Homo sapiens: one gene and its partners. The protein of the gene in region 2 interacts with the protein of the main gene of each other region in a biochemical or structural test. Each region holds a gene or a part of one and is shown on either strand. Other genes may lie near its edges.

Region 1 (3,500 bases), on a different chromosome or scaffold from region 2:
AAATGTTGGTAATACCCTATATTTGGTAAAGTTATTAATTCTACAGGCATGAAACTAGTGAAACCAGAGGCTACGTACGCTGTAACTGAGCAGCTCTCAGTTGCTTCTTCAGCCGTTCCACTTCATTCTTTAAAAACCTGATGTGACGCATCATATTTTCTGGAGAATCAATCTCCATGGAGATATCTCTAGGCGATGGTGGAGCAGAGACGGGCTGGTCTAATTTTTCCTGCAGGATTCTTCATTGAAAAGAAAAATTCCAACAATGACTAACAGTTTTCCTTGAAAAGACAAAACAACATACTAGCTGGCAGGTTTGTTTTAAAAGCAAACTCCTGTTTACTGCCAGAATTCACAGGGTTGCTTAATTCCTCTGCCCATTTTACATCAAACTTCTGCCCTTACGTGGTGTCTCACTTCAAAGGGCAGAGCTGATTCTAATCTCCCTTTTTCCTTTTAAATGACTATTAAATGTTTTAAATTAAACAATACTGAAAAGTCTTTATTTAACAACAGGATCTGATAATTATGCCTGGAATACAGTATGCACTTAGAAATACCTGCTGACTCAATGTTCAACTTCTTGGGTTTAGTGCATGAAGATGCTGAGGAAATTCCATTTTCTTACGGCTTTTGATTGAAGCTTCTAAGCTACTATGAATCTCCTTGGAGGGTAAAGTAACACAGAGACTCAACTTCTAAAATTCCCTCCTGCAAAACTAATTGCAAGGGCATGGCAAACTGGACTAGCGGCCCTTTGCTTTTGGCCACAGCAAAGGTAAAAAGTTAAAAACAAAACCAAAATTGTTAGGTTAATAATTAGTAGTGCCACCTTCTTTACCAATTATTTTTATGTTGAAGGATATAAAATACTGATATTCAATAGCTCTGACCTACAAAATGCAAACTTCCATACTGTTCAACCCAATAATTTGGCACTAATACATGTAAAACCTCCAACTGCCTTTTACAAAGTCTTCCTTTGGCAGCAGATCTCTAAATCCCTTTCCATAGCTGCTGGGGTTTTTGTTTTGTTTTTGCTTTGTACCTTTGAGTTTGTCCAGGAGCAAACTGAGTTACCTCCATCCAGGTCTACCCTTGAGAAAACTAGTGTGTTAAATATTATAATGGTCCCTGCATTTATTACATAAAATGACTTTTCGTAATTCAACTTATTAGTACTGCTACAATAATACCTATCAGTAAAGCATAGTGGATATGATTATAACAAGTATTTCTTATAGATATAGCTCTAATTTTCACTTTTCTTAAAGCTATGTGGTATGCCTGTATTTTGCAAATGTAGACATGAACTCAAAACAATTACAAATATGCATCCAAACCAAATACTTAAGGAGGAAGGGCTCTGGGTAGCAAACAAAAGATCTTGGTGAAGTAGATTAATGACCATTTTTAAGAAACTCACTTTTTACACCCGTACACACATTCCACATACAGAATCTTCTTCCCATTCTTACAAGCCCTGCCTCACACACTCCAAAGTACTCAGTGCTTGAAAATAAGGGCTTAACTATCTTGCACAAAGAGGTTTAAGAAATGTTTGCTGTTGAGTGACATTCCACTTCCAAGTACATACATTTTATATAAAGAATCCTAGCCTTAAGTATGTAAAGGTATTTCTTTACAGTAGGTTTTAAAACAATTTTATTATTAAAATCTCAGGCTTCCTAAAGAAGTAAATTCCAGAGATGTATAAATAATAGTACGCAGTATACCCTATGTACTTTACAAAACAACTGAGGAAGCCAGTTCAATAAGGTGGAAAGTTGAAATTGCAACCATTCTTGAAAATACTTTAAAGGTGAACAATAGCAGCATGACTAATTCTCTCATAGCCTTGTAACACCAAATGAAAAGAAATTCTACTGGGACAGTATGATAGCAAAGAATAAAGAGGTGCCCAACATGGGAATAGTTCAGAAGGCTTTCAACATTTTTTTTCCTTTGGCCAATTAAAATGATGTGCATCACCAAAGAATTAAGGTGTCCTACTGCTATTCCTCAGTCACACCCAGAGCAGCAACACACACACACACACACACACACCCATACTGAACAGCAAGACTAAACAAACCGCTTTTCAGCTTCAAGCTTATCCATCCTTTTCCAGAGGCGATTAACTAGTGCTTCTTGTTCTTGTTCCAATGTATTTTCAAGGTCAATCTTCTCCCGTCTCAACTAAAGGAAGGAAAAAAGTGTTACCAAAGTGTCAGGCCACTTATACTTTGTTAATACATTTTTTGATTGAACAATTAGGACCCCTTTTCTTGGAGAATACTGCAAACATGTGGCCAATTTTCTGGCACAAACATATTAAGTGCATCTAGTTCTTAAACTTTGAAAAAAACTAGATAGGTTCATTCTTGGATGTTAATGCTTAATTGTTGTCTGGTACATGAAATGCATTGCTTGTTTCAGCATTTATTCAAGGCAAGTGGAAAGTCCTCCTTAGAGAGGTCTTTAGGGGAGTTCGGTGTACTAGTCATATCAGGACTTTTCTGGGCTTGTCCCTTACAGTTCTGGGCTTACAGTTATTCTTCCGGGCTTGTCCCTTACAGTAAGTCAGAAAGGTTATATTACTATTCATATAAATAACTCTTAAAAGCTCCCAAACACTCTACATACTGGCTAATGGAGATAAATAAACATGTACTAAGATATAAAAACACGCACAAAATATGATAAACACCAAATCCACAATACTGGTTACTCTAGGTTACTCTAAGGATTTAGGGAAGGAAGAAAATTTGATTTGGGGGAGGCTTTGCAGTTGCGGAGGGAACCCCAACAGTGTTCTATTTCAATGAAGCAAACATGGGAAAATTCAATTAATCAATATTGAGCAATATGTAATAAATACTGAGAACAATGACTGGATAATGGGGGCATAGCAGTGAATCAAGGAGTCAGGAATTTCTGCCCTCATGGATCTTCCTTTTAGTGGGGGTCAAGACAGTAAATGAAACAATTATATACTTGTGAAACAGTATGAAACAGATATGTAGAAAAAGAGGGCTGGTAAGAGAGACTGAAAGTGCAAGAGGTTTCATAGCAATGAGTAGAGGACATGTATTCTATCATTCTCCGTACTTGACATATTAAATAATTAAAAATTTTTTCTTAATGCAAAGAGCCTATGCTACTGCTTCCATGTTATTTCTTCAACCAGTGGCAATTCACCTTTCAATGGTTGAGTCAACAAATTATTCTTGATTGCACAAAGATGTTAATAGATTCCACATTTCCTTAGTGGGTCACAGAGGCAAGCTCCTCATCCAAAGATCCCGTGTGTATACATAAGGCAGAACCAAAAACATGAATAAAATGTAGTCTTTTAAAGCAATCAAACATCAGAAAATAATATCCAAAGTGCGGTTTTACTTTTACAGCCAAATGACATTCCCCTTTCTGAAACTCTTCGTAGCTTAGTCTTAAGAAGCAACAATCTCAACCTCCCGAGATGGTTAGTACTACCAACA
Region 2 (5,212 bases):
ATGTTTCTACAGTTGCCAGATTTTTGCCTCCCCAAAGACTTGAGCGAGTTTACACTGTCAGCAGAGCATGAATGCGTTAGCTTTGCCATACTTTTGTGAACTTGGGAGTTATGATTAATGAAGCGTGATTACCTAATTGGGAATTATTTCTGGGAATAAGTTGTATTATTTAGCAGTTTTAAAATTATTTAGTTGGCCATATCATACTATAGTTATTTATCTACCAGTGATCTATGTGATGTGACAAATATTGTGTATTTCATATTTTCTGACATTTTACTGTCTTTGTTTCTTTTAAAGTTTACCAAAACTTTTGACAGACTGGTAACAATAATTCTTAGATTTCATGCAGTTTTATGTGGTTTGTACACTGAGTATTTTAATGCTAGTTTAAGAGTTAATTTCTGGGCTGGGCATGGTGGCTCATGCCTGTAATCCCACCATTTTGGGAGGCCTAGGCAGGTGGATCACCTGAGGTCAGGAGTTCGAGACCAGCCTGGCCAATGTGAGAAAACACCATCTCTACTAAAAATACAAAAATTAGCTGGGCATGATGGCGGGTGCCTGTAATCTCAGCTACTCGGGAGACTGAGGCAGGAGAATTGCTCGAACCTGGGAGGCAGAGGTTGCAGTGAGCCAAGATCACGCCAGTGCACTCTATCCTGGGCAACAGAGCGAGACGGTGTCTCAAAAAAAAAAAAAAAGAGTTACTTTCTGAACTATACATTTCATAGTTCTGTCTTATGAATGTGTCATTATGATTTATTAAGATTTATAATGACAAATTCATTTCCATGTAGGAAACACTTGGAATAAAGAAAGTGTATATGAGTATATGATAGCCAAATTGACTGAGTTTTGTCCCTGGCACATAGTTAAGTGTGTAATCAATATTTTAGGATAGTTATTAGAAGCCAGATTATCAGGGGTCTACCACTTACTGTGTTATCTTGAGTAAATTATATAACCTCTCTGCCTCAGTTTCCTTCTCTTTAAGGAGAATAATTTAACTCATAGTCTTGCTGTGAGCATTCATGTGATATATATACAATACTTAATACAGTGTCAAGAACTTAATGAGTACTCAGTTTGTGTTGTGGGAATTATTATTGAAGTTCATTCAGAAATAATCTAGCCTAGCCCTCCAGGCATGCTTGTGCTGTAGCTTGAAAGCAGTACAGCAACCATCTACTTGGTAGCTTTGGCAACAAAGTTATTTTTCCCTAAGAATTTATAATTTGTGGAGGAACATGCCACCTTAGAATTTTCGTAAATTCATTTGAGAGAATGTCTCATATTTTTTTGTTCCATATGTACCCCTTCTCAGACATTTTCTGTATCAAATTCCTTCAGTATAGCATATCCTTATTTTAAGATGATAAAATTATGATACTGTGATTTTCATAAAATCCAATTATCTTTGTATTTTTGAGACAAAGTCTTACTCTGTCATGCAGGTTGGAGTGCAGTGATGCGACTAAGTCTCACTGCGGCTTCCACCTCTGGGGCTCGAGAGATCTTCCCACCTAAGCCTCCCAAATAGCTGGGACCACACTCACATGCCACCACACTCAGCTAGTTTTTAAATTTTTGTAGAGATGGGGTCTTGCCGTTGCCCAGGCTGGTCTCAAACTCCCAGGCTCAAGCGATCCTCCCACCTCAGTATCACAAAGTGCTGGGATTACAGGCTGCTCCCCACCCCAACTATTCTTTTCTTCTACTCCACCAATCCTATTATAAACATTCTAGGGAAACCTTTCATTTCTCCTTCCCCATAGTGGGATTGAGATTATGATTAAAATACCACAGTTCTAAAGTTGTTTTGAAGTCTCTGCTAATTATACAATTATAACTACACTATCAATTTTTGGCCACAAAGTTGAGAATCAGTGAAATATTTTATCATTTGTAAGGTAGGTTTTAATGATTGTTGATATATGGATGTTGGGTCGAGGGATATTTTTTGTAGTAATACACTTTACTTACTTGAATTTTGACATACTTTGAAAACGGAAGAAAGAGGTGAGCTTATCATTGTTTTAATGGGCATAGTACATAATCCATAGTCTTACTTTATTTCATTTTTAGAGACAGGGTCTCTATCACCCAGGCTGGAGTGTGGTGGTGCAGTCGTAGTTCACTGCTGCCTCAAACACCTGGGCTTCAGCAATCCTCCCACCTCAGCCTCCCGAGTAGCTGGGACTACAGGCATGTGCTACTATACCCAGCTAATTTTTTAATTTTTTGTAGAGATGGAGTCTCACTATGTTACCCAGGTTGGTCTTGAATTCTTGGCCTCAAGTAATCCTCCCATCTCAGCTTCACAAAGCGCTGGGGTTACAGGCGTGAGCCACCACACCAAGCCGGTAGTGTATTTTATTTGTGCCCTCTTCATAATGAGAAATTTTTATTGATGTATTTTTCATAATGGTGATGACTATGAATTACTGTAATTCTTGGAGAACTGAATTTCTATTTCTATTTTCTTTTTGCTTTTACAAAAAATAAGTTTCTCAGGAGAAAAAAAGCAATGAAAGGTATTTTATCACCTACCTTGGGCAAAAATAATGCTATGGACCTTAGACCACATAATTCTGTTACCAAATCTAAGGTGATGTTATTAGCACAACTTGTGCTACTGTTGTTTATATTCATAATTATTACTCTGTAAATTTTTTGTATTTATGTATTTGTTATTCTATTATAATTTTAAACTATAAAACTACTTGCTTTCTTTACATTGCCTAGGAATAATCAAGACTCACTTAAAAAATATTTAATTTAAAAATTGGACTACTGATATTTTAATTGAATATTTTTGAGATATTGAACTGATTTCACTCTTCACATACTCATAATACAGTCTGGAGAAGTTTGTGATACTTTTTACGTGTACCATCAACTTTGAGAAATTTCATCAAAATTTTAGTATACTCTTGGGAATTGTGTGAAGGACCTCTCTCATGTCTGCTGTGAGTGGGGGAAAAAATACTGCTGCTTTCCTTGTTAACATTGGGCTTAATATTTTTCTCTCAGCTGATGAATTTGAGTTACCTAAATTGATGAACTAAACATTATATATCAAATAAACTTACAGATAGCATCAGAATCATGGGTTAAAGATTAATATAAAACTTTTTTTTTTTTTTGAGACGGAGTCTTGCTCTGTCGCGCAGGCTGGAGTACAGTGGTAGGTTCTCAGCTCACTGAACCCTCCACCTCCCAGGCTCAAGCAGTTCTCATGCCTCAGCCTTTTGAGCAGCTGGAACTATAGTCTCCGCCACCACGCCCCGCTGATTTTTTTGTATTTTTAGTAGAGACGGGGTTTCTCCATGATGACCAGGCTGGTCTTGAACTCCTGACCTCAAGCAGTCTGCCTACCTTGGCCTCCCAAAGTGCTGGGATTACAGGGTTGAGCTATCATGCCTGGCCAAAACTCTTATCTAAAAGTCAAACTGAGTATGTAGTTCAGTTTCTGGCCTTAAAAATAAAGAAGATAGTAAGATTAGGTATTTATTAGGCATTAGAAAAATGTACATTTAAAGTCAAAGTAAAATGCAGTAAAATTTATGAACTTAATAAATACTATTTTAGTGTCATGCACTATTCTGTGTATTTTACATATGTTACTTTTATATATTTTGATAGCCCTGAAATGTATTTTTTTTTTTACTGTAGAGGATCATAGTGTAATCATACAATTTAAAATTTTCCTGGCCAGGGGCAGTGGCTCACACCTACAATCCCAGCACTTTGGGAGGCTAATACAGGAGGATCATTGCCTTGATTAATGGAGGCTTTAAGTCACTCTTATTTTAAATTATCCATTTAAAATATCCACTTGGGTTCCTGTAGAGATGACCTCAGTTTCCAGTGTTCCCCCCAGACGTTTGCTTCTTGCCGTAGGATCAGGAAGCTTTAAGGCACTCTTATTTTAAATTATCCATTTAAAATATCCATTTTAAGTTATCCATTTTAAAATTATCCCTGGATAATTTAAAATAAGAGTTTGAGCTCAAGGAATTCAAGACCAGCCTGGGCAACATCGTGAGACCGGTCACTCCAAAAAAAATTTAGCTGGGTGTGGTGGCATGTGTACCTGTGGTTCCGCCTACTGAGGAGGTTGAGGTGGGAGGATCACTTGAGCCCAGGAGATCCAGGTTGCAGTGAGCCATGGTTGGGCCACTGTACTTACAGAGCAAGACCCTGTCTCAAAAAAAAAAAAAAAAAAAATCCTGAATTCAAAATACTTTAGTCTTGAGAGGCAAGTGAAGTCCTACTAGGTCGTGGCTGCAGGTTTTCAAACTCCTTGATTTAGGTTTGTTATTATGACCACTTTGCTATTCCCAAGGTGATCTCTAGGATCATTTCAGGAATGTATGAAGATAGTCATGAATGTACTGAGTGTTCGTATCCTGCTTCAGTTCACCTTGGCTGTGCCTACATGATGACAGATATTGGTGTTTTTTTTTTTTTGAGACAGAGTCTCACTCTGTCACCCAGCCTGGAGTGCAGTAGCGCGATCTCGGCTCACTGCAACCTCTGCCTCCCGGGTTCAAGCAGTTCTCTGCGTTAGCCTTCTGAGTAGCTGGGATTACAGGCACCTGCCACTACGCTCAGCTAATTTTTGTATTTTTAGTAGAGAAAGGGTTTCACCATCTTGGCCAGGCTGGTCTTAAACTCCTGATCTCGTGATCCACCCACCTTGGCCTCCCAAAGTGCTGGGATTACAGGCATGAGCCACTGTGCCCAGCCCATGATAACAGATGTTTGAAAGGGAATAAAGTCGTGTCTAGTGTCATTGTGCTAGCGTGCCCCTCCCCCTTCAGTGTTGGCCCCAGATCTTCCCTTTATTTTTTTATGTTTGTGGGAAAGGGGCCACATCAGCAGCAATCATCAACCAATCAATAGGATCTACTTAGTGGTGAACATATTGGCTGTTTAATTGGTAAGAGTCGCTGGCCTGACCACACCACAGCATGGCCACTTGGGTTCCTGTAGAGATGGCCTCAGTTTCCAATGTTCCTCCCAGACGTTTGCTTCTTGCCCAATCGAGAGGGGATCTCAAGACTCCTGATTGGTCATTGTGAGCTCTCACCCTGCGTGGCTGTGTAGATAGACTGCATAGATACATGAAGTGGGGATGGGGGCCAAGGTCCTATTACTGCTGTTTGGAAATAACTTGCCTCTTACAGATCCAGCCTTATTGTTT
Region 3 (3,500 bases), about 130 Mb from region 2:
AAACAGAACATTTATTACATGCCAGAAAGATCAGTTAAATAACATTTACCTTCCAAAGTAATGCATGCTAAATTTGCTTTAAACCCTAGGTTTGCTGAGGGCAGAGATTCATTCTCAAAGTCTTCATAACAAATTAAAAACAGAATTTCAGCTGATCTCTGAAGGAGGGAAGACATGTATTGACACTACTATTGATTTGGAACACTGAGCATTTAAAACTTTCCAAAGTGCTTTCTCATCTACCATCTCACTTGATTCCTGTCCCCATTCAACAAATGAGAAAAATTGAATTCCAAAGAGATTAAATCACTACTTGAAAGTCTCATATAGCCAATTAATAGCAGAACCAGCGCTCCTATCTACTTGGCCTCAGGTCATTTGCACTTACAAAAAAGGAAAGAAAACCTAACGAGATCAGGCTGAAAGGTTCCTCTCTCAATCTTAGATCAAACAGACGAAACAATGCTAAGGAGTAGAACAAAACCAGCAGTTCCACCCGTGTGTGCCACAGACCTTGCCAAAGCTGCCTTTGCCCAACACCTTGATGAAGTTGAACTCATCCAGGCCCAGGCGCTTGGCCTGGCCTTGCCGGACTTCGCCATTCTCACCGGGGCTCATCAGCTGGCCATCAGGAGACGATGCTGCCCGGTGCTCCTCTCCTCGGTTGTCAAATGACAAGGCTTTCCGAATGTTGTTCTCAAGTTCTTTTATTTCTAGGGCCAAGGGGAACAAGAAATTGCATTAGTGCATACCTCTTAAGCCTGTTACATTAGGACTCAACACTCAGACTTTCCCCTGTAAGCTCTCAGTCCTCTTTCTGGTTCTTCACAACAGATCCAGTGTGACATCCCTTTGTATGTTCCTTCATCTGTTCACCACACTCTTATTGGCACCTAATGCGCAGCAGAGCTTAGGTATGCAAAGAGGAGGAGGACACAGTCCCTTCCCTGCCCTTGTCAACTCCAGATTACACTGGACCTGGCTGTCTCTCTGAAAGCCCCCTTTGGCTAGTAGCCTATTCCACTGTTCTAGGTAAAGCACACAAATCTGGGCCCTCTCTGGAATTCTGCAGAGTCACAGGTATCCTTCAAGTTTCCTCTGAAGATGAGAACAACGAATCAAGAACTGTCATCACAGTAATCACTGGTGATATAATTATTTCAACAACTGAGCCATCAGAACGGTGGCTGATCACTGAAGGTAGAAACCTTCATACCTTCTAAAAACCTTTACTCAGCCTTGTTGCCGGGTTTCTTCTAAATACCCATCTTACACAAGGTTATCTAACAAAATGAGCAATGGGCTTATTATTAACAAAAGAATTGCTTTCCCAAGTGACATGTTGCAAACTTATCTCCAATGGGGCGGGAATTTCTCAGTACAATTTCTCAACTACGAGACAGTCTTGTGCCCCGCTCTAGAGCTTATGACCTGAATTACCTGGGGGAGATAATGCTGGATGATCCTCTGACCTTTTCTATTTGAAGAAGCTTTACTGTTAGCAACTCATTCATCAAGACACGCACTCTTCTGTGTGGAAATGGGCATCTTGAGCAAAATCCGATTTTAAATGATGCTTGTGAATAACTTGGATTATGGAAGGGGAACATAGCCTATTAACCCTTGGGAATGAGAATTAGGCATGAGTGACAGAAAGAGATCTTCAGCTTCTTTTCAGAAGGACAGAGTCCCATAAGGGCTTACTCAAGGAATCCGGAGATCTTTCCTAGATCTGGAGTTTGGCTCCTCTGAGACGTGTTGGGGAGGGTGAAGACGGGGAAAGCTGCTGAGTCTGCAGACACTCCCCTTGCCAGTTCAGCAGTTATCCACCTATCACTTAGCTTGACTAAATAACTTTTAATCTCACAATAGAGCTAAAAGCCTCAGTTATTAAATGAATTTTGGAAGGCAAAACATAGTTGTTTGGGGACAGCAAAGCTTGAAGAAAAGGTTTTTCTATGTGTCTTTACAAGGGAAGAAAAAGAAACTATGTCTTATTTCTGTTCTGTAATAATGTCGCTCAGAGGGACATCTGTGCTAACATCACTACTGGGAAATCCTGGCGTCTGTGTCAAGTGGGATGAACAGAGGCCCTGGGGCCGCTGTATCCTGCCACTGTATCCATCCAATGGCAGAGCTCAGAGCCAGAGAGCATGCAGGGCAGGAGCCAGGCCTACAAACCCTGGTCTCTGAACTCTTACCTGGGGTCTCTTTTCTATATGACCCTGTCTCCCTGAAGCTCCCAAAGGGGATCTCAGCCTCAGAAAGGAACACGTGAAAACCCCCAAACTGGTCTGGGAAAATAGCTACAAGTTCTGCAGCCCCAGAGTACATCAGGCTACTTATGAATGCTTCAAATCTCATTTGGAATGAGGTAGAGTATAAAGACACAGAAAGTTAATTGGAGTAGCACGAAGAGGGACTGAGACCAATTATTCTGTGGCCTCAGGGCTGGTGCATGACCCCCGAAGCTCTTTTATTTACTCCTGGGTAAGAAGGTCTGGGTCATGGTGGTGACCTCCAAGGAAGGTTTGATGGCAGGGTTTCTGAGAGTGTGTCCCTCAGCCAGCATGGGTACAGTCTTGCCCTTACCACTGACTTATCTCCAAACCTTGGGACAGAACTTTTCCACACTCTGACCTCCCACTTCCCACTCACTAACCTGGGGGACAGTAATGAAGCACCAACATAGAGTGGGTATGGGCATAAAATTAGGATAATGAATACAAAAAGGGATATAGAAAAACCAAGGCACCATTGTCAGGCTGTGATGGTTATTCCTCTTCTGCAGATGCATATGTCCCTTACCAGGCATATCTGATAATGGTCACGAGAGCAGGAGGTTTTGCAAGTGTAAGTCCCTCCTCAGCCTCATCATTCTCGGATGGCTGCAGAATTATTATTGTGCAAATTATGTCTGCAGAACTTATTGTCTGAAGCACAGTCGGACAGAAGGAGATATCTGGAGCTGTAGAGGGGAAACAGGCCTAGGACTGGCCTCCTTCCCACTTCTTTTCTCAGTCTCTCCTCTAGCTTCATCTTTCTATCCTCACCCACCCAAAGGCCAGGATAGAAGACATCCTCCCTCACCCAGCCCCAAACTCAAGCTGATCTCAGGTTTTGGGTATGATGATGGGGGAGGGAGTGTCAAACTCAACTCAAGGGAGTGGTGTTGACAGGTCTAGGGCCAGGCAAGAGCTTTAAGAGAGGGAGCTGTACCCTTCTCTCTGCAGTACACTTGGAACCAGGGACAGAGGCAAGGGAAAACAGATAACCATAACATCATACACTCGCTCTCCTCTTACCCTGGCCTGGAAGGAAATTAAGGCAGATATGGCCATGGAGTGCCCAGCCCTCAAGAAGGTCTTGGAGAATGAAAGAACTGTTAAATCAACAGGCAACGGGTGTGTGAAAACCCACCAGGGCTGCTAGCTATTTCAGCTAACAAGCTCACTCTTGGTTAAAGAGGCCTCAGAGCTCCTTGGTCCATCCAATGGCAG

The links. The genes of interacting proteins can lie anywhere in the genome.
Region 1: the proteins of ATF2 (region 2) and CCDC6 form a complex in vitro, tested with the Homo sapiens proteins (one study listed by BioGRID).
Region 3: of the proteins of ATF2 (region 2) and PRKCE, one has a biochemical effect on the other in vitro, tested with the Homo sapiens proteins (one study listed by BioGRID).

Annotation. Positions count from the first base shown.
Region 1 is NC_000010.11:59,812,557-59,816,056, forward strand, and holds part of CCDC6 (coiled-coil domain-containing protein 6), read right to left. Parts: intron 2,200-3,500; coding exon 2,096-2,199; intron 240-2,095; coding exon 79-239; intron 1-78.
Region 2 is NC_000002.12:175,157,256-175,162,467, reverse strand, and holds part of ATF2 (cyclic AMP-dependent transcription factor ATF-2), read left to right. Parts: intron 1-5,212. UniProt on the Homo sapiens protein: Transcriptional activator which regulates the transcription of various genes, including those involved in anti-apoptosis, cell growth, and DNA damage response.
Region 3 is NC_000002.12:46,004,675-46,008,174, reverse strand, and holds part of PRKCE (protein kinase C epsilon type), read right to left. Parts: intron 714-3,500; coding exon 514-713; intron 1-513.